Linked DNA regions of Homo sapiens. The protein of the gene in region 1 interacts with the protein of each later gene in a pairwise test. Each region holds a gene or a part of one and is shown in the gene's direction. Other genes may lie near its edges.

Region 1 (10,587 bases):
GGGAAAATGTCTGGCAATTTCTTATAAAACTAAAGTACATCTTTCCCATGACCCAGCATTTCCACACCTAGGTATTTACCCAAGAAAAAGGAAAACATATGTCCACAAAAGGAATTATATGAGAACATTTAGAGCAGCTTTATTTTTAATAGCCAGAAGTTGGAAACAGACCAAGTGTTCATCAGTAGGAGAATGGATAAACAAACTGTGGTATGGTCACACAGTGGAGTACCACTCAGTAATAAAAAGGAACAAACTACTGATACTCGCAACAGCATGTGTCATGATTTATGTATCATATATGTGAATTATGTATCATTATGTATCATGTATTAGCATGAGCCTCAAAAACATTAAGCTGAGTAAAGTAAGTCTTATTCAAAAAAGTCCATGCCTTATGATTCCATATATATGAGCTTCTATAACAGGCAAAACTAATCAATGACGGAAAAAAAACAGTGGCTGCCTCTGGGAGTGAAGGGAGAGGATTGCCTATGAAAGGATGAGAGGACATGTTCTTGAGTAGTAGTCTTTATCTTAGTAGGGGTTACATTTACCAAAACTCAGAAAATATGCAGTTAATATTTATATATCTCATTGTATGTATATTTTACTTCAAAAGGAAAAAAGAATAATAAACAAATATTGGACTATAGTTAATGATAGGTATGGAGAAAGTGCTTAGGAGTGAAGTGCATACTGATGTATGCAACTTCAAAAAAAAAAAAGATAATGAATAGACAAATAGATAGAGGGAGGAGTGGATAGGTGAGGGATGAATAAAGCCAGTATAGGAAAATATTAGTGGTAGAATCTAGGTGGTTACTAGATATCCTCTGTAAAATTCTGTCAATGTCGCTATATGTTTGAAATTTTACACAATATATACTTTTTTTTGGAAAAATGTAACTTCAAAGTTTCACAGTCCCCACAGAGTGAATCTTTTTCAAAGTTGGTAAGTTTCATTACGGGAAGGCAGACCTCAGACCTAGGTAAAAATTTCCTGAGCACATATTATGTGCCAGGCACTGTGCCAGGCATGGTGAGGGGTACAAAGAGGAAGAACACAGCACCTGCCCTCATGAGGTCTGTAGGGGCCATCTGATGAGCCCATCCGTCACTATTATTCTACGCTATGAGATTGCTAAGGACAGTGAGATTTCATCTAGTTGAGAAGGTGTGTGGCATTGAAGACATTTTGGGTAATTAGTGCTGTAAGTAGGGTTGGACAGCATCTTCAGGCCGGAGCACAGAGAGTCTTGAAGGCCACAGTAAGGTGATCATTTGGAAGTCTAGTGGACCCATTCAAGAATTTTGAGCCAAGGAGTGACATCTTTAGGAATTTACTGGGAGAAAGGGGCAGGTGTGATAGATGCCATTGCTTTACGGGGGTTGGCAGGCAAGGGAGCTTTTCAGGTACCTGCAATGAGCAACGGGAGCAGCTGGAAGCATCCATAAAGAGAGGTTCAGAATGACCAGGACAGCCCCAAAGCCTAAGGAGATGAGATCTTGGTTTGATCCCCTGGGAAATGGGAAGCCATTTAGTCTGTGCCTCTGTCCTACTTCTTTGCCCAAGGATGTTGTGGCTCTGTAAGGCCATACTGGTTGTTCACAGTCAAAATCTATTCTGATGGTTTGTTAGTCCATTCTGATTGACCAGCATTGAAGATATACTGCTGTTGAATCCATACCTGCCCACCTCATAAGGTTGTTATAGGGTTAATTAGTATAATGTATGTAATATGCCTGGCATATGCTAGACACTTGATAAATGAAATCAGGGACCAAATTTGATGCTCCAGTATGTGGCCTGAATATAGGAGGATATCAGCACAAGCCCACGAAGATCTCCAAGAAGTCTCTAAGTAAGGCATTTGAAGCTCCTGAGGCCCATTCCAACCTACAAATATTGTGATCTTTATCAAACCCCAGTTAGTCTGAAATGCTGTGTATATTCCCATGGAAAAACTGAGAAGCCCCAGTTGGATTAAGGAACCGTCTAATTTATTCTCATCAGTCTTTTGAGAACAGACCTACTGTGGTGGCTTATGGCAAACCATACCCTCAAGATTGTGCTGCTAGGAGGAGGTAGAGAAGCTTGCAGCATAGCCTGGGACAGTGAGCTCAGACCACCTGGAGTCTTCCTTTTTCCAAACAAGGCTTTGGACTCTAGTGCTTAGAGATTGGGCCCAGAGTCTCAGTTCTCTCCAAATTCTGGCTGGTCGTCCTGCCCACTACTTACCCAGCTCCACATCCTGGCACTCCCTATTTGTCCCCAGTTCACAAAGAAGTTGTCTGTGAGAGTTATAAAGGCACAGACTGTTCACCGATGTGACTTGCTCACCGATGTGTCTCTAGGACCCAGCACAGTGCTTCACACAAAGTAACATGTAATAAATATTTGTTGAATGAATGAATGAATGAATGAATGATTCCTTCTCAGTCTTTAGTTGGTGCCTCATGAAGCCTTCTTTCTTTCTCTCCTTTAGAGCCCACTGTGGCTTTGCCAGCCTTCTGGACTCCGACAGTGCTTACCATCTGTGTCTGTCCTTTGGCAACTAGCCAAACTCAACTCAGTTCAATTCAACCAACTTCCATAGAGCTGCACTGTTGGCAGGAAGCACTCACAGTCTCAAGGAATGGGGAAAGCATTTCCTATCCATGGCGCCTCAATTGTACTTTTAAAACAAACTTGGCATGGAAGAGAACCTTTCCCGAGACTCTTTGAAAGTCTAAATACATGATTGTAAATTACTTCCCTTTGTCAACACCCTTGATTACCATTTTGGAAATGAGTTCCAGGTGATGGATAAACAGATGATTATTTGACAGGTATGGGGCTCGTGGAAAATGGGGGTGGAGGGGTGGTGAGGAATGAGAACCAGTGCCCATCTGGTGGATTTGCAGTTTCATTAAGTGTGGTAGGGAAAGGGGTTAGCATCTCAGCCATTCCAGGCTGGCCTGGAACTGAGATTTAAAGGATGCCCATCAGCCCCTAGTGTGAAAAGAAAGCCAGGATCCCCTCCACCCCACACCTGTTGTTTTTTTTGGAGTGCTGGGCCTTTTTAAATTTTATGACTATTCTCCGTTTCTATTTCCACCCGCTTTTACACATCTATCCCTCCCCATGCCATTCTTCTATAAATTAGTAGGTTGACTTCTCTCTGGTAGTGATTTCTTTCAATAAAACTAGAAGTAGCGTTGTGTTTATTAAAACATTATTTTAATAGCAAAACATGAAAATAACAGAAATATTACAATAAATGGCAAAGTTAAATAAGTTATGGTAGATCCATAGTCTGGAGTACTGTGTAGACAATAAAATAACACTAAGGAGTCAGTATTTAGAAAGGGAGACTTCCATGAAATTGCTATCATATTCCATTTTAATCCACTCTTTTGATCAATATTGCAGGATCTGGATGCATTCATTGTGCAATATTGGAAATTATTCTTAGCTTATAACTATACTGTGGCTGGGGAAAAGATGTTCTTTAAAAAATAAAATTTGTAAGTGATCTACTCTAAAAAAAACAAAAACAACAACAAAAAATAACGCTATGGAGAAATAGTAAATGACATGGAAAAATTTACAGTATGTTTTTAAGGGAAAAAGGCCATGAAACATGAGAGAGAGAGAGAGAGAGAGATTTGAGAGAGAGAGTCATGAGTATGCACCATTGATAATTTTTCGTTCTTTTCTCTTGTCGCTTTTTTGTGTTTTCCAAGATTTCCAAAATTTTCCTTGTTGCTTTTTTGTGTTTTCCAAGATTTCTGCATTGAATGCTGCAAAGTAAAGCTCAGAAGGGTGCATTGTGAAGAATCTGAAAGCACAAACAGGGGCATAGAGCAAGGCTTCTTTCAGTCAACGAATTTTGAGGAAGGCAAAATGCACAGAGTATTGCAGAGGAACTCCAGGAAGATGCTGTTTTTCAAATTCAAAGGGGAGAAGATGGTGTCTATTGGTGGTGAGAACTTAAGTTCCACCACAGAAGACTAAACTCTGTTAAAGAATCAATGAGTAACAACTCCTGGGTTTCTGAACATAGGGCTGAATTGATAGAAGTGGTGTTGGAGAATTATTCTAACCATAACATGATAGATTCAGCTGTAAGCCAGGAGATTCTCTGTTTGCATATTTGACCTGAGGTAATGAGAACATGGATTAAGCTTGTGGCAATAAAACCAGAAAGGAAGGAGCAGAGGGATCTGAGACATGCTACCAAGAATCAGAGCTAGAGATTCAAATTTGGCTAAATATATGCCAAGTGGTAGGTGAAACCATGTAAGAGACACTCTTCAAGGAAATGGGTGTTGAGAGAGAATAGCTGAGGACTGAGTCTTTGGGGATTCCAACAGTTAATGGGAGGAGGAAAGAAGGGGAGCCAGCAAAGGAGGCAGAGAATGGTGGGTCAGAGAGATAAGAAGAGAAATTTGAGAATGCAATGCCACAAGAGCCAAGGGTAGGACAGTTACAGGAAGGAGTGGGTGGTTGATGGTTTCAAATTCATCCTCGAGGTCAAAGATGCAAAGGGAGCAGAGACCCCTGAATTTGACCCGGAGGTCACTGGTGAACTGACTTATAGAAAGTAGTTTTGGCAGAAAGCACTGGACTCTAGAAGGTTCAAGAGGAGGGAGAGGTGGGAAAATGGAGGTAGCTCATGAATACCACCCATTTGACACAAGTAATGTGTGAGGACTGAGAAGAAGAAGGTCAAACTTTATAATTCCAGTCCTGCTACTTAACCAGTCTGAACCTCAGTTTCCTCTTTGGAAAATGAGAATCCTATTAGCTCATAAGGCTGTTGAAATTAGAAAACAAGTTTAAATGATTATTTGTATGTTACAGTAAAGGGGTTTCTTCCTCCTTTCCTCTCAAAAAAAAAAAAAAAAACCCTAGCTATTTCTAGGTATATGTTAACACAGCAGTCCTCAACCTTTTTGGCACCAGAGACTGGTTTTGTGGAAGACAATTTTTTTCATGGACACTGGGGAGGGGTGGATAGTTTCAGGATGAAACTGTTTCACTTCAGATCATCAGGCATTAGATTCTCATAAAGAGCATGCAATTGTAGATCCATGGCATGCGCAGTTCACAATACGGTTTGAGCTCTTCTGAGACTCTAATGCCACTGCTGATCTGACAGGAGGTGTAGCTCAGGCGATAATGCTCACTTGCCCTCTGCTCACCTCTTTCTGTGCGGCTGGTTCCTAACAGGCCAAGGTCCAGCAGCCTGGGAGGTTGGGGACTCCTGTTTTAACAGATAAGAGAAGTCTTTTTAGCTCAACAGTCATATCACTAGGTTAGCAGTGCTTTGAAAATTCTCTGGCTGTGTCCTCTGGCATTCATCCTGCCAAGTTGCTTTAACAATTCTTTCCTGAGGCCCTCTGAGGTGAGAATATTGAGGCAAGGTGATTAGAAGGGAGCCAGTGTCAGGGTCATGTGGAATGTCTCTGAGGCCTGTTTAGAGGCTGTGAAGCAAGGCTCTGTTTGAGACCCTGGATACAGTTTGGTGCCAACCTCACCTGAACACACAGAAGGCTACAGCCCCTGGGTGGATGGTGGGCTGAAGAACGGTTGGGGAAGAGGCATCGGAAAACCTTCCTTTTTTAACCCATGGCACCTATAGATTGAATGGTCCCTGGACTGAACGGTCTTGAACAGGCAGCATTATTTTCAAGGTGTGCCTAAGGTCATACACTTTTCTTGCTTTCTGCTCTCATTTGGCAACTATGGACAACCAGACCTAGCCAGCACTACCTCATTTTTTCTACCCCACCATCTACAAACCAACCCTTTTCCTTTGTGAAGCTCAGTCTGTTTCCAATTTAACATATCTGGCCTGATCTTTGTCTTGGTGCCTTGTTTTCCCCTAAAAAAAGACAGCCTTTGAGAAAAAAATGGCTGCCCTAAAAGCCATTAGGGCCTAGACCTGTTACCAAGTCTAGAGAGGCACACAGCTGTTTGCTGGCCTAACTGGGAGTAGGGTGAGCATATTCTCTAGAACTGGCACTTTTCAGATCCCGAGATATCCACAGAGTGTAGTCAAAGGGCCTTTTAAAATGTGCATGCTACTCTTATTGGAAGAACTTGGTTTCACTTCTGGGAAGATGGCTTACTTACCCATGGGAAACAGGCTCCCATTATGAATAGTACATTCATGTGCTAAGATGTGTTGACTTTTCAAAAAGTGTCATAGGACATCAGAGCAGGGGTGCTTCCAAGAAGGTGTAATATCACTTATATCACCAGAAACCATTTTGGATAACCAGGGAGTTCTACTCTGCCTTGGCCTTCTAGCAGGTGCCTGAGCACTCAGTCACCAAATTCAGCCTGAGCATCTTCTGAATAAGATGCTCTCCTCCGACAAGGTGGGAGGGGGGTGAAAAGGGGGGCGGGGGGAAAAGGAAAGGAATGAGGACTAGAAAGATAGGCCTGGGTCCCTGTATATGGGAGTAACTTCCATAAAATGTGGACAAGGGGTCTCTGCTGCGGAAAGGCGTCTGCCCTCTCCCTTGAGCGCCCCAAGGCAGAGCTGCCTTAGGGGGCCAAATGCTGTATCTGGGCCAAAGCCTGGCCTGCAGGGCAGGTGGCCAGAACTTGGAAGGAATTCTCTTCCGCAGCCCAGGGTCCAGGCTTGGCCCCAGCAAGCTGCCCTGCCAGCGTCTGCTGCCTGGGGCCTCGCGCATTCCGAGCCCCCGCCCCCTCCGCCCGTCTCCCAGCCTCGCCCCCACTCTTGTCCCCTTCTCCTCCCCCCACCAGCTGTCCCCTTTCCCTGGAGCAGCGAGACAGCCAGAGCCTGGGAAGAGGCGGCCGCGGGCCGGAGGGGGCGTGGTGGGGAAGGGGAGGAGGGGCGGGAGTGAGGGAATAAGGAGGCCCCGCCGTCGGCGCCCCCAGCCACTGCGCGCTCGCCGGAGAGCTGGGTGCTACCGCTGTTTCCGCTGCTGAGCCCTGCCCGCCGGCCGGCCCGCTCGCTAGCTCGCTTCCCCTCGCCCAGGGGGAAAGGTCAGCAGCGTCCTGGAGCCGCCGTGTCACTCCCCGAAAGCCATGAACTGCAGCGAGAGCCAGCGGCTGCGAACCCTTCTGAGCCGCCTGTTGCTCGAGCTGCACCACCGGGGTAATGCCAGCGGCTTGGGCGCTGGCCCTCGTCCCAGCATGGGCATGGGGGTCGTGCCTGACCCTTTCGTGGGCCGCGAGGTGACCAGCGCCAAGGGCGACGACGCCTATCTCTACATCCTGCTCATCATGATCTTCTACGCCTGCTTGGCCGGAGGCCTCATCCTGGCCTACACCCGCTCCCGTAAGCTCGTCGAGGCCAAGGACGAGCCGTCCCAGGCTTGCGCCGAGCACGAATGGGCCCCGGGAGGCGCCCTGACCGCCGACGCCGAGGCTGCCGCGGGCTCCCAGGCCGAGGGCCGCCGCCAGCTTGCCTCCGAGGGGCTGCCTGCCCTCGCCCAGGGCGCTGAGCGGGTCTAAAACCACAGCCCCAGATTGCTGGTTCGCGCCCTCCTCATCTCGCTCATCCCTGGGCGCGCCTCCCACCTTCCACCCCCAACTCCCTTCCAGGGTTCGCCTCATCTGAGGCCCAGATAATGGTGAGAGGCCAGGAGACCTTGTCTGGAAGGCCCTGGAAGGAGAAGCACCACCTTACCCATTCGGGCCAGTTTCTCCCTCTTCACCCCTGCGCCTCCACCCCTACCCCGCACATCCAACTGCACTAAACTGCCTCTGCTCTCTTGTCTTCAGACAGCCCTGACAGCACGCTCCAGCCCTCTGGGAACTGAATCCAACACGTCCAACACTTGGCACTGAACTGAAGCAATGCATTCTATCAGAACTCTGGGCCGTCTAACTGGCAGCTGCTCCAGGGGCTGCCAGGGACTGCTCACTCTGCAGAGCCAACGGGCTTGCCAGGCCGACTGCAGCAGCTCCAGCTTCCAGTTGCCTTAGGGACAGAGACAAAGGAAATGAAGAGACCTCAGACATCTTTTCCCTCCCTCTCTCTTTCAGCAGGGAGCTAGCAGGACACTAGGACCAGTCTGTGGGATAGAATGAACTTAATGGGGGACGGAAGGGGGAGGAGTGCTCAACGGGGAGGGAAATGATCTATGACTCCAACCGTATGATTTTCTTGCCTCCCCAGTTTTCATCCCAGTGGTAACGCCTGATTTTTGGTAGCTATGCCATCTTCTGCTGAGGATTACCATTACTGGGTGTATCACCCCAGTACTTCCAAATGCCTCTCCTCTATTGATTCAGTTGTTATTGCAGTGTCTGCTTCATCCGTGGAACTTGAGGCTCAGATGCCCCCTGCTCTGTAACCCTGGGGAATGTCAGAGGCAGGTAATAAAGGTTGTTTAAACAATAACGCAAGACTCTTCTCTCAGAGATTCCAGCCTTAAGACCCAGTACCATATGGAGAAGGAATCCTTTTTCTTTTGCTTTTGGAAATGATGTTTGGATTTGGGGGTTGGGTGGTTGTGATATTTATATCTATGTAACCAGTTCCAATTTGATATGTGTGATTATGGGTGAAGAAAATGTTTATATGGCTAAATGGGTTGTTTTTTCAAGTGTTTCAAAAGTTATACCTACTTTATTACTTATCCCTCCTTTTTTCTTATTTCTGAAGCACTTTCAAAGATCACAATGCAGTCTTTCAGGATGCACTTTAAAAAACCTTTAAGGCCCATCCCTTTTAGCTATTATCAAACCTAATTTTTAGAAGCCACCTTAATAATTGTTTTTATTTTACTTTTTTTGAGACAGAGTCTCACTGTGTCACCCAGGCTGGAGTACAGTGGCACAATCAAGGCTTACTGAAGCCTCTGCCTCCTGGGTTCAAGCGATTCTCCTGCCTCAGCCTCCCAAGTAGCCTCCTGAGTAGCTGGGATTACAGATGTGCCCCATCATGCCCAGTTAATTTTTGTATTTTTAGTAGAGACGGGGGGTTTCACCATGTTGGCCAGGAGGTTCTCAAACTCCTGACCTCAAGTGATCCGCCTGTCTCGGCCTCCCAAAGTGCTGGGATTACAGGTGTGAGCCACTGCACCTAGCCAATAACTTTTTTGAAGTGGCTTATTAAAAGACAAGGAAGCCACCAAATAGTGTAAATCTGAAGTCAAAGAGAAAATTCTTGAACTGAGCAATCTTAACCAATGATGGGTAAAGTTAGAGGTGTGTGTTGTATTGATTTATTCTCCTTGTCTCAAGAAGGTTGTCAGAAACTTCCCTGCTTACAGCTGAAATGCTTATATCTGATGATGGCTGTTTGGGCTTCATCAACCACACATAAAATCACCTCTTAGAAGTAAGCCAATTTGCTTAAATATAGCTGGGTTCTCTGATAATGATAGCAGGACAAATATATTACCAGTCACTTAAATGCATTGATAACACACAAACCTCATTCAAGGCATTGGGTCTTACCTTCCAGCCCATCTAGCATTTTATTGGAACTGTTAATAAGTTAAGTGAACTTACTTTTATTTCCAGGATTCACTCATTGAAGCTATACTGGCCTTGCCCCATTGGCTCTTCTCCAGTCCTCGTTCCAGCCATAAGGTCACCCCTGAAGGTGAGGGCCAGGGATTGGGCAGCAGTCCAAGACGATGACAGAAAGAGAAGGGAAGCTGTGTGAGCCATTTCAGCCAGGCAGGGAGGCCTGGGGAGGATGTGGAGGAAGGGCACAATATACAGCAATGCTGAGGACATGTGACGGGGCGGTCTTCAGTCCTGTATTCTAAGTAAAACAATGTCACTCATTTATCTGGCATAATGGGGACTCAAGGTTATTATTATTAATTTTTTAAATTGAGACGGAGTCTTGCTCTGTCACCCAGGCTGGAGTGCAGTGTCGTGATCTTGGCTCACTGCAACCTCTGCCTCCCAGGTTCAAGCGATCCTCTTGCCTCAGCCTCCCGAGTAGCAGGGCTAAAGCCTGCGCCACCACGCTGGCTAATTTTTTTTTTTTTTTTTTTTTAGTAGAGACGGGGATTCATCATGTTGGCCAGGCTGGTCTCAAACTCCTGACCTCAAGTGATCTGCGCACCTTGGCCTCCCAAAATGTTGGGATTACAGGCGTGAGCCACCACGCCCGGCCTCAAGGTTATTTTGATAATGAAGCATAATCACTGCTTCAGGTGTTGAAATTTTGTAAACACATTTGTACCATTTTCCCATAGACATTTAAAAGAATATATTGCCAAAAATAAAAGAAGCTGGGAGCAGTTAGGACAGTGCTCATAATACACATTAATGTGCCAGCTGTGGAAAACAAATCCCATGGAAAATGTTCCTGCTTTTAAAAACATTTTAACCTTTTTATGATGACTTAGGGTACCCATGAAGAACATGTAGCGAGAGTAGCTATAGAACCCTCCTGGTCAGAAAAGTGAGGTGGGCTGGGAAGAGTGATTTAATTTACTTTCTAGTGGCTTTTTTCAAATACTCTCAGACTTTCAACTGTCTCCCAGATAATGAAGTTTTTCAGAAGTCTGGACACTCAACTTTTACCAGACAGTGGAGGTGTTAACAGCATTGAAGTGATCATATTGTGGTCAGCAAAACATAGGGAGAAGAAAGAA
Region 2 (11,837 bases), on another chromosome or scaffold:
CCCCTCAGTTTCCCTCCCCAGAGGCAACCACCATTTCTAATTTCTTAACCATTTTTCAGAAATCAAATGAACTCACACACTACCCTTGTCTATTTTGACGCAGGCTGGTGCATACAATGAGGTCTGTTCTGCAGCTTGCTCTGTGTGTCTTGCTGGGCCTTGACGGCGGTGTGTATAGATTCTCCTGATTCTTTTGAACAGCTGCAGTTTTCTCTTGCCTTTATGACCATCATTTATTTAGCCAGTCCCTTAATGAGGGATATTTTGGTCATTTCCAACCCACCACTATCACAAACAACACTGTAATGTTATATACGTCTTTGTACACATGAGCAAGTATAGCTGCAAAATAAATCCCTAGACCTGTGACTGCAGGTCAGAGGAGGTCTGCATCTCTTACTTTGATCAATCGCGCCAAATTGCCCTTTAAAAGGACTGCACCCATTTACACTGCCTCCAGCAATATCTAAGCAGCTCAAATGAGCTCTTGAAAATGCCTATCTGATCACGATCCTCCTAATTGAAAGCCACCCGTCCCCATCTCTGACTGCACGGCAGAATTCCGAAGAGACATCAAAGCAACCCTATAAGTAAGGCCCCAACCCCTGAGGTTCTGACTGAGTTAAGATGTGGCCCAGTCATTGGAGATTTTTTTAAGCTCCCCAGGTGATTCTAGAATGTTCCAGGGTAGCGAACCACAGCTATAAATTCACTAGGGGTTCCCCATGCCTATTCCCACCACATAAAGTCCACGCTCCTCAGCAAAATAGAGAAGGCCTTTCATTTTCTGATGCCCACCTGCCTCTCTGCCCTTCTTCTTCGTACTTGCCACTTCATGTCCAACTCTCTGGTCCTGCCGAATCCGTTTCAGCTTCCCAGAAGCACCGTGTTCTCCAGCTCATCTGCCTTGACTCAACCTGCCCCTTCTGCCAGTACCCGCTTCTCCACCTTGCTAGCTGCTGCTCACCCCCCAAGGTTTGATTAACCAGGGATTCTATCTTTAGGAGCATCCGCTGACCTTCCTGGGGAGCAACAGTCACAGTGATGTACTAGGGGCCACAGGCACAGGCTTGCGAGAGCCGATCCTTAGCATCTCTTCCCAACTCCCTGTTCAACGATGCTGTTGTTGGCTCGACACTGGCCATGACAGGGGTACTTACGCCACAGCAACTGGCAACCACCACGCGTCAGGAGCTTTTTTCTTTCCCCCAGAAAGCCAGCTATTATCAATTAATATCACGCAGGTGTTACAAAGCTCCTCTGCACGCTCATGGCAGCCTGGGATTTCATCGACTGCAGCTCCTCTCATGCTGTTATCAGGAGACTTTCAGACCCTGTAATAATAGATAGCACTGAAGATGGTGAAAATAATAATGGCTAGCACTTACTGAGTATATGTGTGTGCCGGACACTGAAATGAAGGCCTTACGTGCATGTGTTCATTTGCTCCTTACGACAACCCTGAGAGGCGAGGACTATCCTGACCTCTGCTGTCCCAAGGCACAGAGAGGAAAGGTGACTTGCCTGAGGTCACACAGCCAGTGAGCAACATAGCCATGACAGTTGATGGTCAATGTATGTCCTGTGGAGGGAGGGATCCTAACTTCTGCAAGCAGGTGCTGGGTGGCCTGGCTAGATAGACAAGGCAGGGCCTTATCCTCAGCAAATTGCAAATATCCTTGATGGTTTGTGACTGGCCTATCCCCTCCTTCAGGCAGGAATGTATTAGTTAGCTATGGCTGCTATAACAAAAGCCATCAACTTAGTGGCTTAAAATAATGCAAATTTAATATCTTACAGTTCTGGAGGCCAGAAGTCTAAAATGAGTCTTACGGCGCTAAAATCCAGGTATCTGCAGGGCCATGTTCCCTCCTGGAGGCTCCAGGGGAGAATTTATTCATTGTCTTTTCCAGCTTTTAGAGGTCACCTGCATTCCCTGGCTCATTGCCCCTTTCTCCATCTTCAAAGCCAGCAGTGTCTGATTGAGTGCTTCCTCACATCACTCTCTCACACTCTCTTTTCTGCCTCCCTCTTCCACATTTAAGGACCCATGACGACATTGGGCCCACCTGCTGAATTCAGGATACTCTCACTACTTAAGATCAGCTGATGAGCACCCTTAATTCCATCTGCAACCTTAATTCCCCTTTGCCATGTCAAGTAACACACGTGCAGCTTCAGGAACTGGGACATAGACATCTTCTGAGGCTGATATTCTGCCTCTCACAGGGCTCCCCCTTTTCTTGCTCCATTTTGTGGGACAAAGACAACTCCCTCTTCTGAAGGACACTTCAAGAAAGAGCCAGGCCTTGGTGACATCTGACTAAGAAGGTAAGAGCTAGATGTGATCACATCCACCAATTTGGGGACTTGGGGTCCTCCTACCAAAACAGTACAGAGAGATATGCTCAGTCTAATTTTGATGATGATGATGGTTGAGGTATTAGGTACAGCAGGGCGAGTTCTATGGGCTTTACAGAAGTTAACTCTGGGTCAATGGGAACTCTTCTTCTTCCTGTGGCTTCCTCTGCTACTCCTCCTCACCCATAGCCCAATGCAGCCACCAGCCCCACTTCTACATGATGTTACAAGGCCAGCACCCACTACCATGCCAAAGTCTCCATGTCTTTGGGTCCAAATTCTCAGGAGAGAGAGAGAGCAAATTTGATTGGTTCATCTCAGCCTATGGGTGAAGCCCTCTTAGGGTAGGTGTCCTTCCTTTGTCTGATTGGACAAAAAAATCTTGGTTCTATCTGATTGGCTGGGGCCAGGAGGCGGTGTACTGGCTATAAATACATCTGTGATAGGCAGAATAATGCCCCCCCAACCCTGCAAAATGCCCATGCAACCTGTAAATATGGAAATAAGTTCCTTTGCATGGCAAAAGGGACTTTGCAGTTGTGATTAAGAATCTTAAGACTGGAAGACAATCCCAAATTATCCAGGGGGCTCAATGTAATCACAAGTGTCCTTACAAGGGAAAGAGGAGGAGGAGAATCAGAGATGGAGATAAGAGCACAGAAGCAGAGGTCGGAGCGATGTAACTGCAGGCTTTGAAGATGGAGAAGGGGCCACAAGTCAGGGGATGCAGGAGGCCTCTAGGAGCTGGAGAGGGTACGGAAACGGAGTCTGCCCTAGAGCCTCCGGAAAAATCCCAGTCCTGCCAACACCTTGACTTTATCCCTGTAAGACCCCTTTTAGACTTCTGGCCTCCAGAACTGTAAGAGAATACATTTGCTTTTTTTTTTTTTTTTTTTTTTCTGAGAAGGAGTCTAGCTCTGTCACCAGGCTGGAGTGCAGTGGCGTGATCTCGGCTCACTGCAACCTCCGCCTCCTGGGTTCAAGTGATTCTCCTGCCTCAGCCTCCCAAGTAGCTGGGATTACAGGCACGCACCGCCACACCCAGCTAATTTTTGTATTTTTAGTAGAGACGAGGTTTCACCATGTTGTCCAGGATAGTCTCGATCTCCTGACCTCGTGATCCACCCACCTTGGCCTCCCAAAGTGCTGAGATTACAGGCAGAAACCACCGCACCCAACCAAATTTGCATTATTTAAAGCTTCTACATTGGTGTTATTTATTACTGCAGCCATAAGAAGCTCACACGTAGTCACTATGGCTCATCCCTTGATCAGAAAAATGTGGCAGAAGACATCTGGGTGGGGCATTTCTACGTATGCCTCGAGTTCCAGGCTTCCAGGACGCCAGGAGGATGGGAGATGGGTTACTGGCCCTGATTAGCTGAGGTCAAGTGTCCATACCCGGGAGGGACACTGGGTACAAGAAGACAGTAGCACTAAGCCAAAAGGTGGCTGGGACTTCACAAAGACCTGAAGAAGGGCTTAGTGGATGCCCTGGGGAAAGGGCTGACGGGACTGAACACCAGGCTGAGGGAAAAGTCCTACAACCTGGGCAAAGTGTATTGACAGAAGGCACTGAGCTGTGGAAAGAGCACTGGACTGTGAGTCCACACTGAGCCTGGCAGTGCCATCCACTGGCTGGGAGGGCTCAGGCAGGGCTCTCCCCTTCACTGGGTCTGAGTTCCTCTATAGGTAAAATGAGGGACCTGCACTAGGTCAGTAAATCAAGCCTTCTTTTAGAAAAGTTTTTGAACAGCAGACTCCTGTATTTACCTAAATCTTTCTTGGGTAATTTGGGGAAAAAAAATTGCTAAGATGGTAATCATAGCCGGGCACGGTAGCTCACACCTGTAATCCCAGCACTTTGGGAGGCAGAGGCAGGTGGATCACTTGAAGCCAGGAGATCAAGACCAGCCTGGCCAACATGGGGAAACCCTGTCTTTACTAAAAAAACAAAAATTAGCTGGGTATGGTGGCAGGTGCCTGTAATCCCAGCTACTCAGGAGGCTGAGGATCAAGAATTGCTCGAACCCGGAGACGGAGGCTCCAGTGAACCAAGATCTTGCCACTTCACTCCAGCCTGGGCAACAGAGCGAGACTCCATCTCAAAAAAAAAAAAAAAAAAAAAAAAGATAATCATAATAATAGCAAGCATTTGAATAGATAGGACTCACTTTTGTGACAGGCAGTCTTCTAAGAGCCTTATCAATGTAAATTGATTTGTTCAAAACTCACAACAAATCGATAGATGCTGTCATCTTCAGGTCACAGACAAAAAAATTTAAGGCACAGAGAGGTTAAGAAATTTGCTCAAGGTCACCCAGCAGGGAATTGGTAAATTCTTGATTTGAACCCATATACTCAGGATCCAGAGAGAACTGAGAGGAATGGGGATAAGTTAGGGGAGATTTAACCAGAAAGGCTAAATCCAGACAAATAAGAAACAGCTGAGAGAGGTGGGGAGACAGCTGGGGTAGGAGGAGGAATCATGAGCTGGAAAGACAATTCTGAAGACTCTTCTAAGAGCACCATTGGAGCAGCTGTGGGGTCTGAGGAACACGGGAGTCAGTGGAAGGAGGGAAGGAAACTTCTCCATTACTGGCAGGTGCTCTGGGATCTCTTTGAGTGGCTCTGTGTGGACACTGGACCATGCTGGGCCACAGCCTTTATTGGGGTTACACTTACAGTCTTATGGAGACAGATCAGAGTGCAGCTGCCATGGCTGAGGTAGCAGGTCCAGGGGTTCATCCTCCCCGTTGTCACTGCCCCAGGCCAGGCCCCTCAATCATTTCTGCAGAGCCCTAAGGCTTCAAGCAATACCATTTGAAAACCGCAATACCAGATGGACCTCCATTCAGTCAGTTCTCTTCTCTGCTTGGATTCGTTCCCATTGCCAAGGCCACAGAGAGCCCACCTAGGTCAGCAGCACCTGTCATCCCCTTGCAGGCAGCTGTGGAAGGCTCACCCTCTAATCTCCCTCACTCCTGGATCCTCCCATCAAAACTCAAGCGTCTGTTAAGTGATGGTTCTTTTTTTTTTTTTTTTTTTTTGAGACAGAGTCTCACTTTGTCACCCAGGCTGGAGTGTAGTGGCGCGACCTCAGCTCACTGCAACCTCCGCCTCCCGGATTCAAGCAATTCTCCTGCCTCAGCCTCCCGAGTAGCTGGGATTACAGGCACCCGCCACCATGCCCAGCTAATTTTTGTATTTTTAGTAGAGACAGGGTTTCAGTACGTTGGCCAGGCTGGTCTCAAACTCCTGACCTTGTGATCTGCCCGCCTCCGCCTCCAAAGTTCTGGGATGACAGCTGTGAGCCACCACACCCGGCCTAAGTGATGGTTCTAACCAGCAAGATGACCTTGAGCAAGCCTCTTCTCAGGGCCTCAACTATCAAATGCAGTGAAGATAACACATTCAGAAGCCAAGAGCCTGGGCTGCAAAACCTCTTAAGAAAGTGAAGAACAGTCAACGTGTAGTGAGCAACTACAAGATGCTGGTTTTACAATTGCAGCCATCGCTGGTTTCACTGTCCTCATTTGACTGAGAAACCCAAGGCCCAGAGAGGGGAAGTGACTGACCAAGAACACACAGCCAGGCAGTGCAGAGTCCAAGTTCACACCCAGGCCCTGGACTGATGCCTCTTCCTTTTCACCCACCCAACCATCCAACCAGCACAGGAGCTTGCACTTATGGTTCTGACCTTCCCTGAACCCTCTCTCATTCCCATGTTTTAGAGACAAGACAATTGAGGCTCAGAAGCACTAACTCACCTGGCCAAGGTCACCCAGCCTTTCACATAGGAGCCAGGATCCAGGCATGTGTGTGAATTCCAAGCTCGGAGCTCTTCCTATTGCTGTTCTGTAACACAGCCCCCCTGACTCCCACCCAGCGCTCAGAGCCTGGGCTTCTGTCTGAACCTGTCCCAGGCCTGGGCTGCTTAAAAGCAGCAAAAAGTTCCTCCTGCAGCTTCAACTTGAGCCTGTCACCATCATCAGCATACCCCGAGAGACTCTGGGGTGCCTGGGACAGGTAGCTGCAGATGCCTCCGGCCCCAAGTTGCCCTCTGCTCCTCCCGAGTTGTGCTCCTCCATGCCAGAGGAGGGAGGACAGCTCCCCTTGCCTCCTAGGCGGTTGGCAGAGTGGCAGCGGCTGCTGCTTCTTCCTGCTGCTGGCTGATGGAGAGATTATTTCTAAGCCCTTCCCATTCCACACCCCCCCACACTGGCTGTCCCCGTGGGACTTGAAGTGCAGAGTCCGCTGCTCAACCAGGACAGCTGCCCTGGCTCCCTCCCAGCAAGAACCCCCAGACCCTCATCTCTCATAAGGAAAGGGACTTCTGGGTCCTTTAAAAAAAAAAAAAAATCCCACCTCAATCCCCCAGGGCTCTCCTGCAGCTGCTGGAGAGAGAGATGCAGAATGAATGAACTTCTGGTTTCTGGAGGAGGCACGGGAAGAAAGATTGGAAACTGACTCTGCTAGAAACTGCTGTTTTGGGGATTTTTTTCTTCCCCTTCATCTCCACCAGAAACCTGTCCCTTCCCTGGGCACCAAGAGATGGGCTCCCCTTGCCTGGCAGAGAAACAGCTGGAAACTGGCTCCCTGAGACAAGAAGGTGAGTTAAACTGGAGGGGAAGAGTTACTGCTTGCTGTAGGGTGGGCGGGGGCCAGGGGGAAGTTGACGCTGTTAGACATCCTTGGCAAAAGTGCTGGTTTGAGTGAATTCCTTTCCCGTGCTCCAGAAGGAGCTGTTTGCCAGCTGTTTGGAGAGCCGTAGATGGCAAAATTGGGTTTATTCAGTGAATGCAGAAAGGGCAGTTTTCAGGTTCTGGAAGGAGCCCCAGGCTGGGGGACAGAGTGCTGGGTTGGATTCGGATTTGCTGTGTGACCTTGGACAAGTTACTTCCGCTCGCTGGGTCTTGGTTTTTGCACTGGGAAAATGAGGAAGCTTGCAAAGGGCTCCCCAGATTTCAAAATACTCTTCTCTCTGCAGGCTCCTCATCCTCCTCTGGCCATTCCCTGTGAGCAAAGTAATGCATTCAGAGCAACAGAATGTTGTGTAGGGAGCAAGAGTGTGAAATAGGTTACGATTCACTCTCCACTATCCACCGGAATCCAACCGGCTCTGAAATTGAGAGGAACTTTGATTTCCGTTCCACTGCCGAGTTTTTCTCTTGATTGGAGTGGAGTGCATCTGAAAATGTAAGCTTATAGATGCTTTGGAAATGGCTTTGGCTAGAATGAATAGCATAAGAAATGGTTGCAGGATCTGAAGGTGAGAAATATTATGAAAAGGACTTTTTAAATATGTGAAGTGGCTAAATCTAAAACACTCACACTAAGTCAAGCACCTCATATAGGTCTGAAATGGAGACAGCATTAGAGGCCCCGTCATTTTTTTTTGTTTTTTTCTTTTTGAGATGGAGTCTCGCTCTGTTGTCCAGGCTGGAGTGCAATGGCGCAATCTCGGCTTACTGCAGCCTCCGCCTCCCGGGTTCAAGCGATTCTCCTGCCTCAGCCTCCCGAGTAGCTGGGACTACAGGTACATGCCACCTTGCCTAGCTAATTTTTGTATTTTTAGTAGATACAGGGTTTCATTGGCCAGGCTGGTCTCGAACTCCTGACCTCAGATGATCTGCCTGCCTCTGCCTCGCAAAGTGCTGGGATTACAGGCATGAACCACTGCGGCTGGAGGCCCCTTCATTCTGCACATAAAAGCCTGCGGGCCCAGAGAGGGGGAGTAACTGGCTGGAGGTCACACAGCAAGGATGGCTGAGGCAAGCACGCAACGAACATGGAGGAGTACTGTGATTGCAAGTACGCAATGCTCCTCCGTCCCCTTAGCAAAGGCCTCCCCAAATGGGGAAGCGACCAAGAGGGATTAAGCGAGACTGGTGGAGTTCCTCCTGAGACCTAGATGCTTGGATGCTCGCTAAGCATAGTCACATTCCTGGGCTACTCGAACCTTTAATAACAGACCCTCGCTGAACCTTCCTGATGTCAGGTGCTTGCTAAACAGTAGGCAAGACACGCAAACCTTCCGTGCGTCAGCCTCCTTATCTATAAAGTGGAGCTCTTATGTCTACTTCATGAGGTTGTTGAGGTGAGTTAGGGGAAGCCAGGCATGTCAGAAGCATCTAGAAGTATTATTAATACACACTTTCTTGTATATTACTGCATATAACCCTTGCCATGCCCTACGATGTGGGCACTCAGACTGCCCCAGTCATACAGATAAAGCAAAGGACTCAGAGACACTGAGTAACCCACCTGTGCTGGCAGTCTGTAAGGGATCGGTCCCTGCCAGTGAACCTGAGAGCCTACATTCTTAAGCTCTATTTTTACTACCTGTACCTTGCAAGATTAGTATGAGTCTTGTCATTTGAATGAATGATGCTGAGATCAGAGAGGTTAAGCCACATACCTGAGACCACAGAGCCCAGAAGTGGCACCGCTCCGACTTGTCCAGCTCAGGACTGAATTACTCAAGCCCCCATCCGTGCAACGTCTATTCTGGAGACATCCTTCTGAGATGTCGGTAGAGGTTCCACCAGGGAAGGGTTTTTTTCACTGATGTATCCCAAGCACATAGTAGGTGCTCAATAAATATGTGTTGAACTAAAGGTTAAAAGAACAAGCCATGCAGATGCAGTCACAGGAAAGCACACGTAAGAACATCTGCAGTCGTGACATCCAGGACTCTTTGCCCCAAGACTGATTTCCCTTCCTTTTGCTTGCTCTTTGTCCCTTGGGTGTCAGACTGGTAAACCCAGCGCTTCCTACCTGGTGGTCTTCAGCAATGCCCATGCCTTCCAGAGACGGGGGCCTGCATCCCAGACACCACCACTATGGTTCCCACAGCCCTTGGAGTCAGCTCCTGTCCAGCCCCATGGAGACGCCGTCCATCAAGGGCCTTTACTACCGGAGGGTGCGGAAGGTGGGTGCCCTGGACGCCTCCCCAGTGGACCTGAAGAAGGAGATCCTGATCAACGTGGGGGGCAGGAGGTATCTCCTCCCCTGGAGCACACTGGACCGGTTCCCGCTGAGCCGCCTGAGCAAACTCAGGCTCTGTCGGAGCTACGAGGAGATCGTGCAGCTCTGCGATGATTACGACGAGGACAGCCAGGAGTTCTTCTTCGACAGGAGCCCCAGCGCCTTCGGGGTGATCGTGAGCTTCCTGGCGGCCGGGAAGCTGGTGCTTCTGCAGGAGATGTGCGCGCTGTCCTTCCAGGAGGAGCTGGCCTACTGGGGCATCGAGGAGGCCCACCTGGAGAGGTGCTGCCTGCGGAAGCTGCTGAGGAAGCTGGAGGAGCTGGAGGAGCTGGCCAAGCTGCACAGGGAGGACGTACTGAGGCAGCAGAGGGAGACCCGCCGCCCCGCCTCGCACTCCTCGCGCTGGGGCCTGTGCATGAACCGGCTGCGCGAGATGGTGGAAAACCCGCAGTCCGGGCTGCCCGGGAAGGTCTTCGCTTGCCTCTCCATCCTCTTCGTGGCCACCACAGCCGTCAGCCTGTGTGTCAGCACCATGCCCGACCTCAGGGCAGAGGAGGACCAGGTGAGCGGCCTCTGATGGCATTCACGGCTCCATCCCGCAGGGTGCCTGGGCGGAGATGTCTTTTAGGGGCCCAAGAAAATGTCTTCAGATCTTAAAATAAGAAGAAAAAAATGAATATTATCCAACATGGGTTATATTCATTATTAGGCCATCAGTCATAAAAGATAATTTTCCATCTTTTTTTTTTTTATTGGAGTCCTGCAAAGGCAAAAGTGCCTAAGGCTCACCGTGAAAATCATTACGTGGCCCTCAGCCATGCGTGGACTCAGTGGGCCACACAGACACAGTGTCACCTCTCCCAGCTCTCCCGAGTCTGTGACTACAGGCAAATCACGCCACCTCCTCTCTGAGCCTGTCTCCCACTCCGTGAAATGGGTAACATCACCTCGAAGGTTTACTCACCCAGTGAACTCAACATGTGTTTACTGAACACCACTCTGTGCTAAGCCCTAGAGCAGGTCAAAAACATAAAATCCCTGCCTTCTTGAGCTAACATTCTCCTGGGCATCCCCACTCCATTTTCAGATGAGGAAACTGAGGCATGGGCCATTTATTTTCCTCGGAGCTCCACAGTAAGGATGCCAATGATGCAAAGGTCCCCGGCCTCAGTTTCCCTGCAGTGCTCAGTGTCTGGGCCAGTCTCACTGGATGGGAAACTCACAGATGAGCTGATCTGTAAGTCACTCTGCCCCAGGAGGCCAGAGTAAAAAGTGCTGCTTGCCCACACCTTCGTCCCCTTTGCAGGGAGTTACAGGAGACCCCGAGACACCCTCCCTCCACTCGGGAGCCAGATGGTCTGAGAAGTGAAATAAGAACCTAGCATTTGGTTGAGAGGGTTATTGGAAAGCTTCAAACAGAGAATTAGATTGTTTCCTGATTTAAAAAATCACTCCTCTCCAGCACCGAGCTCCCCCAGGGCTGCCCATCATCTTAATGTTTGGAGCTTGCCTTGTAATCAACAGAGAGAGAAACTAAACACATACGTAAGATGGTGCTTGCTCTATTTGGCTCCTAACAGTTGCCAGCCCACCTAAGTTCTCTTCGCTTAAAGATATGTCCCAGGGCAAGACAACAGGATCAGAGAACTTGCCAGATAGAAAAGACTTAAATGGAGAACCAGCCCATGCCTCACAGACAGTAGGATCCCAGTAAATATGGGTTGAATAAAATGTGTCTTGTCCAACCTACAAAAGTTTGGCCCTAAAAAAACCCACAAAATATTTGGACCTTTAAACAGCTTGTTTTCCCATGGAGAAGATGACAATGCCAATCATAGGCATTTTTTCATTCTACAGCATAAAAACATGAGATTTAAGAGCCTGCTTGTTCACAGAAATATTTATGTGTGGACTCTGCAGTACAAAGATTAAGACAAAACAAGTGACCTCCCTACCCCATTTCTTAAGGGTGCCCTGATCCCAGTTAATAAAGAAAGGCCCCTGGATGCTCACAAGCCTGTTCCTCTTACAGATTTCCAGAGAAGGGAGAAATTGTGTAGGAGCCAGGATTTCGGTTGCGCAGACGGCCAAGATCTTTTCAAAACCTAATGCTTTGAAAATTACGCAGGGTATGAACCCAGGCCTGGCTTAACAGTGACTCAGGAAATCAAATTAGAGGGGAGAGGTGGGCCCGCAGACCTGCGCAGCCAAAGTTTCAGCCGAGGATCAGGCAGCCACGTCTCCTCCTGGGACAAGAGAGATTTATGCCCGGGCCCAGCCACAATATCTTTATGCTTTCTCCTTAGTGAAAGCATCTTTGTGTGTGTGCCCAGAGACAGGCTGAGGTGCTGCCCAGAGAGTGTCTGTGTTTCCGTTTAGATAATAATTCAGAGAGCAGGGAGGCTGAGGACGGGGCAGTCTTTGTTCTCCCAAGACGGTGACCTTACATTTACGTAAAAGGATGATGTCCTCTTCCTGGACACACG
Region 3 (8,366 bases), on another chromosome or scaffold:
TAATGTATTGTTGATATTTGTAACTATTGTATATTTCTGTCTTGCTCCAGTCCCAGCTGGAGTGTCTAGTTCCATGGACAAGGGGATATTTAAAATTCACCACGGACAAGAGCCACTAAAGCCAGGTCTCTATCGCTAATCTCTCTCCTATTCTTATTTCTCTACCAACTAATCTCAAGTAACAATACCCCAGGCTTTTTTTCAGCCTCAATTCAAGTAACTTTGAATCAAAAGAGAGCAAGGCAAAAAGCCTCCGGACATGCTTCTTTGGGAAAGGACTTTTTCTGTAGCTGCAGAGTGGGCAGGAGGGAGAAGGGGCTCCCCTGAGACCCCGGCAGGACAATGGAAAGCTTCCAGCCCCGAGCTGATGTTTCCTCACCTATCACTGCTTATAGGACAGCATCCAAATGCTTTCATGTCACTCAGCCCAGGCAACCCAAACCAGTCCTGGCTACACCCAGAAATAAGAGTTACCTCTGCATTTTCTGTTGCCATTTTTCTGGCTCTAGAAGTATCTGATGCGCGACTATGTCATAGAATGTCCACGCATCTCAGAGTAGTCTATTTTTCTGTTCAGATAAAATATATATATATATGTATTTTTAGCAAATTTATAATAGGGCAATTGAGTCTAATTTCTTCTTTTGTAATACAGAACAATATCTTAGGAGTTTCATTGTTGGTCATTATCGTAGCTGATGTTTTCTGGTCTTTTGCAGTTCCTACCATTGTCCCTTGGGCTGTTTGGGTTTTCTTCCTTTTGATTCTGATTTCTTGAGGGTGGGGAAAGACTTTGGGGTTTGACTTCCTTGTGTAGGCATTTCTTGACACTAGGCCTGGACTCTGTCAATGCTGTGACTTTCCTCATTCATTTCTGTGTGTTTCTCCCATTCGTTGTTCTTAAGAATCCAGGGCATGAATGCAGGAATGAGACCCAGGGAAGCAGAGCTACAGATGGCCCTCAAAATCAGGATGGGATGTGGGCTGGTTTCACTTATATCCCACACCCCTTTAGGGATCTGAAGGGACTGAGTTTTCTCATCCCCAGAGATCTTGGAACCAAAAATCTCATGCAAGCAAACTCATCACTGGCATTTCTGAGATCCAGAACACATGTGAGTCCCTCCTGGCTGGGCTGCTCCCACATGTCCAGCACCCTGTCGGCCTGTAACATCAATCAGAGCTGAAGGTCAGAGGTTTTTCAGGTTCTCGTGAACCTCACAAGAACATGCTGGGCCTCCGATCTCACCAACTTGTTTATCAGTTCCTTGTTTCGATCTGTTTATTTATTTATTTTTTTGTTATTATTATTTTGAGACAAAGTCTTGCTCTGTTGCCCAGGCTGCAGTGCAATGGCGCAATCTCGGCTCACTGCAACCTCCTCCACCCAGGTTCAAGTGATTCTCATGTCTCAGCCTCCTGAGTAACTGGGATTACAAGAGCGCACCATCACGCCCAGCTAATTTTTGTATTTTTAGTAGAGGCAGAGTTTCTCCATGTTGGCCAGGCTGGTCTTGAACTCCTGACCTCAGGTGATCTGCCTGCCTCGGCCTCCCAGTGCTAGGATTACAGGTGTGAGCCACCACTGCACCCAGTCCATTTCAATCCATTTCTAACAGCTTCACCAAAAAACAGTGGCCAGACACCCTTGCAGCCAAACCCTGAGAAGAGATGTCCCCGAATCTGCTAGCTCATCTCCCCTTCCCTTGCCAGCTGCCTGGCTCCATAGAGCAGGAGGTGTGTGGCAAGGACAGGGGCAGTTTTCCAGCTTCCACCTATCCACGCCTGGGGGAGTTTTTGGACTGTCCTGATAATTAATTCCAGAGGCAGTTTTCAGTCCTGGGTGGGCGGAGGACATCTCACTAGGCAGGATCTTCAGCAGAAAGTGATTCTCCATCCGTCAACTCATGCAGGAAGATGAAGAAAGCCCAGATAATCTCCAACTTGCATTCGTTTAGGTTTTGGTATACCACCCACCTCACTGTCAGCTGCAGGGCTTGGGGCTCTGCCTAGAATCAGAAATTTGAGCCAAACTGGGACCCTCAGATGGCAGTGAGCCATCCCATCAGATAACTCCCAAGAGGAAGCCAACTCAAATATGAATTTTATTATTCTGGACTATGACCCTGATCAGAGTTCTCCCACCCCGAAAACCTCTGATAGTCTGGTTTGAACCAGAGTCAAATAAAACAGACAAGATTTTTTTTTCCTCTGCACAAAAGCAAAAAAACAAAACAAAAAAAAGTCTGCCAGTAGTTTCCTGGGTTTGATGCCCAGATAAGCAAACACTGTTGCCTATGGCTGTTGCTGTTTTCATCAAGAAAGAGGTTATATAGTTTGCATTTCCATCCACTCTCCCTGATTTTATCTTAACCTAGAATTTCTCCTGAACTACCCCAAATGCCAACTTGAATTTGGGTAGGGCTCTGTTAATCGAGGGAACCCTCATCTTCACTTATAAACCTAATTCTCTGTTCCTCCCTCCAAAGATCCTGAAAAGATCTCCTAAAGGCTGGCCAGGATGGGGTGGAGTGGGGCAGTGCACCTGAAGAAAAAAACTTAGCTGCCAGCTGGCTGTATGCAAGTTCTCCGAAAATTTCTATTGTATGAAAGGGATGGGGTCAATTGCAGCTCAAATTAAGGAAGCCCTCCTAACAGGCTGGGTTGTCTGACCATGGAGCTCAATGCCATGGTGGACAGTGAGCTCCCTTATATCACAGGTGTTTAAAGAGAGGCTGGCTAGATGGTGTAAAAAATGGGCATTGCAGAGGGGCCCTAGCATTGCATGGAAACTGGGCTGAACAACCACAGAAATTCCTCTTTGTTTCTTGGAGTGTGTGTGTGTGTGTGTGTGTGTGTGTGTGTGTGTGTGTGTGTAGGTGGTTTCAACACTCTGGATATAAGCTCAAGCCACTGAGGCAAAGGCATGCAGCACAATTAGCAGGAATGCAACTTCTGGGCTTTGGAGCTCTCAGAGGGGGTGTCCAAGAGACAAGTCTGCTTCCTTCCGGCTCCGTCTTGGAACATTTTAATGACTGTCAGTCACCAATCCAACCCATCCCCAGTGGCCTACCAGGCACCACATTGGGATGAGACTCATGCTACCCTTCCCCAGGCCAGCCAAGGAGCAATCCACGCTGTCCCCCATCCCTGGCTGGCTGTCTTATGGTGCTTCAGCCCCTCCGCCCAGCTCCTGTGCCCTCATGAGCCTGGGGCTTTCTGTATAAAAGATGCAATGATATCTGTTCCCCACTAGCCATCCCCACAATGAACAACTTCCCAGGCAATAGCAAATGGCTCCATTCCAAAAGGGCTTGTTTTTTTGGTAAATCAAATAAGAGACCCCACTCAAGACCTTTGAAAGTCCCCGTCAATGAAAAAAATCCAGAAGGGTCAAAAGAGAAAGGCAGCTTTTAATCCAGTTTCACAGCAAAACCAGGCTCTTGGCTGCCTCCAAGCAGAATGCCACTCTCCTGCAGCTGTGGCCTCCATCCCAAATCATCCTGCATACTGCATTCTCTAAGGAAAGCATTTGACAAGAGAGGGTTTATGTATGGTGGATTGGGAGAAAGTGAGACTTCAACCTCAGGGTGAACCGAAGACTGGTTTGTCTTTGGTTGTTTTAGTATGAGGTTGGGCAGGATGATATGTTTGGATGGGTAGAATGAGCAGCCGCCTTCCTCTGAAACCAAAATAAAATAAAAACCAGTTTTCAAGATTCCTCCCAACTCCTCACTGGAGGCTCTGCCCTGCAGAATCACTCAAGTTGCAACAACACAAGGAGACAAAAATAGGATATTTCATGAAAATATAAGAAACTCCCAATTCCGTCCCATTAGGATGCCCTCAAGGGGCCATGCAGGGATCTTCCCATACTTCCTGCTTCCCTGATCTGAACCAAGATTGGAAAGAGGCAGGCAGCAGAGAAGATGCCCAAGAAACTCTGACATATCCACAGCTTGGCTCTGCCCCTTGGGCTTCACTGGGGTTTGGGCCTCCCTCTTGGTTGAGCTGAGTGTGCCTGAGTGGGTGGGGACAGGGAGGATTCTCCAGGTCTATCTTGATTTCATAGGTCCTTCTCAATCCAAGGTCAAAAACTGAGAATCTTATTTTCTGCACCAGGAACTCAGGGTTATCCCCAACCTATGCCGCTGGCACATGATGGTCATCCAACCTGTGTTTTTGTGAGTGAGTGAATGTGTGACTGGTTGGCCTCTGAGTGGATGACTGGATGCGTGAATGTGTGAGTGAATGGGGGAGTTAATGAATCCCTACCTAACTGTGAAGAGAAGAAAAATGAGGAGCCCCTCTCCCACTGAAACCCATAACTGCCCCATCAAGGTCATCTTTCTTTGACTCAAGATGACATCTCAATTTGATGCTTGTAGGCCCCAAGCTGATAAGGGCCACAGCCCTCTCAGAGCCACACTTCCTGGGGGCCCACAGAGCAGCTCTGCCCTCCTTCCTCTTCCCCTACCCTGCATTTCTCAGCCTCATGTTCTATTTTAGCTCACACACGACCCATGGGGGGGACCACCAAGTGGTTTTCCAATGGACTAAGCCAAGGGTTCGAAGTTGGGACTTCCTTTGGTCTGGGACTTCCTGGGGCAGAAACATAGGAGCCAACATCTGGAAACTGGATTGCATTCCCTGAGCCATGGGAGTCCAGCTGGATATTAAGGCCAGCCTGCCCTCCAGCTTTTAGAGCCGAAGATCTTTTTTTCTGAGCCCCAAAGCCGTCATGATAGTATGCCCCCAGATCCCATCAGCTAAGACCCTGTCTCTCCCAGGAACCCGTCGTGTGAGGTTGGGGCTTTTCTGCCAGTAAAGCCATTCTGATCACCTCACCCTTGACAGGGGCCAAGCCAATCACATTAGCCATAAATGACCAATGTCCTCAGCCACTCTTTTCTCGGGGGTGCATTCGTGGGTCCTATTCATCTCTCGTCAGTTAATGTCTCTAGTCCTTCCTGTAAAGGTGAAAATAAGCATTGCGCATGTGCGCAACACACACGCACACACACACACACACACACACACACAAATCCCAGTGTCTTTTTATGCATGTGGTGAGATGAAATTGTGATCTTTGTGTGACCTCCAGCTGCTGTCTTGTCTTGTAAAATATGTCCAAATGTTTAAGAATTTCTAAGCAAATGGTCCCTTAATGAAGTCTGCAGAGTTCAATAAAAGGTATGGAAAAAACAAGCCTGGAGGAGTTTATTTTTTGGAGGGCACAGGGAGGCGAGATGGGAAGCGCTGTAAGGGGACTTGAATCAGGAATCCTGTCTCCAGGCGGCATCAGCTTTCTCTCTTCCCCCCAGAAGAGGGAGGACATGAAAATATAACTGGCTTTTCACCCCCACTATGCAACCCAGTGGTAACCCATCCTACATGATATTCATGAATCAAAGTTCCAACTCTGGTCATTTAGTTCTCATGTCAACTATGCCTGGGCATCTCATTAAAAACTGTCTCACAATAGAAGGCATAAGCTCAAATGACTACTGGGGCAGAGCAGGTAACATAAATGAGTAAAGCAACTTAACTAAGAGACTTAAGGGGGTGGTGGTGAGTGTGATAAAAAACAGAACACACACCCTGTCTAAAGGGGTGAACACCATTCATCTCCAGCTGGTTGTTACCCCATAGGGATGTGGGCCCAGCAATATTAGATCTTTCTAAGAGAAGTCAGAAATCTGGATTTTTAAAGGAAATACCCAACTTTTAAATGTTAGCAACTATGGCTGGGCATGTGGCTCACAACTGAAATCCCAGGACTTTGGGAGGCCAAGGCGGAGTTCGAGACCAACCTGGCCAGCATGATGAAATCCTGTCTCTGCTAAAAGATAAAATAAATAAAAAATAAAAATAAATAAACATTAGTGATTAATTCCATTTTTTGTAGTCCTGTACTGGCCAAAGGAAATATATCTGTAGGCAGACCAGAGCCCATAGGCTACCTTTCTGTGATCTCTGCCTTACTGATAGGGCTCAAAGATTTCTATATTTGTTTTTGGGAGGTTTTTTGTTGTTGTTTTTGAAACATAGTCTCACTCTGTTGCCCAGGATGGAGTGCAGTGGCACAATCTCTGCTCGCTGCAGCCTCCACCTGCCGAGTTCAAGCAATTCTCGTGACTCAGCCTCCAGAGTAGCTAGGATTACAGGCATGTGCCACCACACCTGGCTAATTTTTTGTATTTTTTAATAGAGACAGGGTTTTGCCATGTTGGCCAGGCTGGTCTTGAACTCCTGGCCTCAAGTGATACACCCACCTCAGCCTCTCAAAGTACAGAGATTACAGGCATGAGCCACTGTGCCCAGCCTTCTGTATTTATCTACTGCTGTGTAACAAATTACCCCCCAAACTCTAGCAAGTTGAACCATTTATTATCTCATGGTTTTTGTGGGTCAGGAATTCAGGAGCATCTTTAGCTGAGTGGTTCTGGCTAGGGGTCTCTCACAAGGTTGCAATCAAGACACCAGCTGCAGTCCTCTGCTTGACTGGGATGGAAGACCTGCCTCTAAGTTGGCTGAGGAGGCCTCAGTTCCTTACTGGCTGTTGGCAGGAGGCCTCAGTTGCTCACCATGTGGACTTCTCCATAGGGCTCTTGAATATCCTCACAGCATGGAAGCTGGCATCCCCCAGGGGCAGTGGTCCAAGAGAGAGGGGTAAGGAGAAAGGCACAATGCGTCTTGTGGCCTAGTCTCAGAAATCAGAAACCATCACTCGCACCAAATTCTATTTGTTAGCAGTGAGTCACCAAATCTGGTTCACACTTAGAGAGAGGTAATTCTACCTCTTGGGGAAAAAGGATCAAATATTTTGTGGACATATTTTAAAATCATTACCTTTCAAAAGCCCATTGAGTGAAAAGGGTAGTTTCCAGACTTTAGGATTTCATAGCCCAGTAAAAAAAAAAAATTTATTCTTATTTGTCTAGAGATGTGGTCTCACTCTGACACCCAGGCTGGGGAACAGTGGTGCAGTCTTAGCTCACTGCAGCCTCGAAATCCTGGACACAAGCCACCCTTTTGCCTCAGCCTTCCAAGTAGCTGGGACTACAAGTACCTACCACCATGCCCGGATAATTTTTTATTCAGCTTAGAGAAGTGTATAAGGCTTGCTGACATTTTATTTTGCCAAGTAAAGATGTGGAAAAAATGACTATCATGTACTATATATTATCTTAGTAAAACAAAGGATATATCAAACCCATAAAATATACAACCTCAGAATAAAGACCATCCTGAAAAAAAAAAAACTTCTATTCTTTCTTTCTTTCTCTCTTTCTCTCTCTCTCTCTTTCTCTCTCTCTCTCTCTTGCTCTCTCTCTCTCTTTCTTTCTTTCTTCTTTCTTTCTTGAGACTGAGTTTTGCTCTGTCGCCCAGGCTGGAGTGCAGTGGCACGGTCTCGGCTCACTGCAATCTCTGTCTCCCAGGTTCAAGCAATTCTCCTGCCTCCTGTAGCTGGGATTACAAGCACCCGCCACCACACCTGGCTAATTTTTGTATTTTTGGTAGAGAGGGGGTTTCACCATGTTGGCCAGGCTGGTCTCAAACTCCCGGCCTCAGGTGATCCACCCGCCTTGCTCTCCCAAAGTGCTGGGATTACAGGCATGAGCCAACACACCCAGCCTTATTATGTTTTTTAATAGATCAAACCTTCTCAAATTCAGCACTACTGACATTTAGGGCCAGCTCTTGCTCTGTTGTGGGGTCTGCCCTGGGCACTGCAGGGTGTTTAGCAACATCTCTGACCTCTACTCACCAGATGCCAGTAATACCTCCCCCCAGTTGCAACAACCAAAAATGTCTCCAGAAATTGCTAGATGTCCCCTGGGGGACATCACCTCCAGTTGAGAAGAGGCACAAAATCTCAAATCCAAAAGATGCAATGAAAAGTGAAATTTCCCTTATACCCCTGGACCCCTGTCCCCCTGTCCCTAGAGGCCGCCAGTTTCTCACGTATCCTTCCAGAGATCATTTTTGCAAACACACACACACACACACACACACACACACACACACACACATACATATAACCGATGTGTAGCGTGCGTGTGTTGTTTTGTTTTGCTTTGATTTTACCCCATACAAATAGTAAGAGTGCCATATACACTGCTCTGCATCTTGCTTTTTTCATTTAATGTATCTTGGAAATCATTCTGTATTAATACACGAAGAGCCTCCTCATTCTTTCATAAGCCTATGTTGTGTTCTATTATACATGGTAATTGCCAGTCTCCTACTCCTGAACGTTCAAGTTGCTTTCAACTTTTGCTATAACAAACAGTGCTGAAATGAATGGCTTGTCAGCCGTTCCTCTGGGCTCTGCCTTCAAAATAGATCTGGGATCTGCATTT

The links.
Region 2: the proteins of KCNE5 (region 1) and KCNG4 come close enough for resonance energy transfer, tested with the Homo sapiens proteins (one study listed by BioGRID).
Region 3: the proteins of KCNE5 (region 1) and KCNB1 come close enough for resonance energy transfer, tested with the Homo sapiens proteins (one study listed by BioGRID).

Annotation. Positions count from the first base shown.
Region 1 is NC_000023.11:109,621,482-109,632,068, reverse strand, and holds KCNE5 (potassium voltage-gated channel subfamily E regulatory beta subunit 5), read left to right. Parts: upstream 1-6,896; 5' UTR 6,897-7,048; coding exon 7,049-7,477; 3' UTR 7,478-8,369; downstream 8,370-10,587. UniProt on the Homo sapiens protein: Potassium channel ancillary subunit that is essential for generation of some native K(+) currents by virtue of formation of heteromeric ion channel complex with voltage-gated potassium (Kv) channel pore-forming alpha subunits.
Region 2 is NC_000016.10:84,234,806-84,246,642, reverse strand, and holds the start of KCNG4 (voltage-gated potassium channel regulatory subunit KCNG4), read left to right. Parts: upstream 1-6,630; 5' UTR 6,631-6,973; intron 6,974-9,117; 5' UTR 9,118-9,157; coding exon 9,158-9,913; intron 9,914-11,837. UniProt on the Homo sapiens protein: Regulatory subunit of the voltage-gated potassium (Kv) channel which, when coassembled with KCNB1, modulates the kinetics parameters of the heterotetrameric channel namely the time course of activation, deactivation and inactivation and on the voltage-dependence of activation.
Region 3 is NC_000020.11:49,360,719-49,369,084, reverse strand, and holds the end of KCNB1 (potassium voltage-gated channel subfamily B member 1), read left to right. Parts: 3' UTR 1-5,208; downstream 5,209-8,366. UniProt on the Homo sapiens protein: Voltage-gated potassium channel that mediates transmembrane potassium transport in excitable membranes, primarily in the brain, but also in the pancreas and cardiovascular system.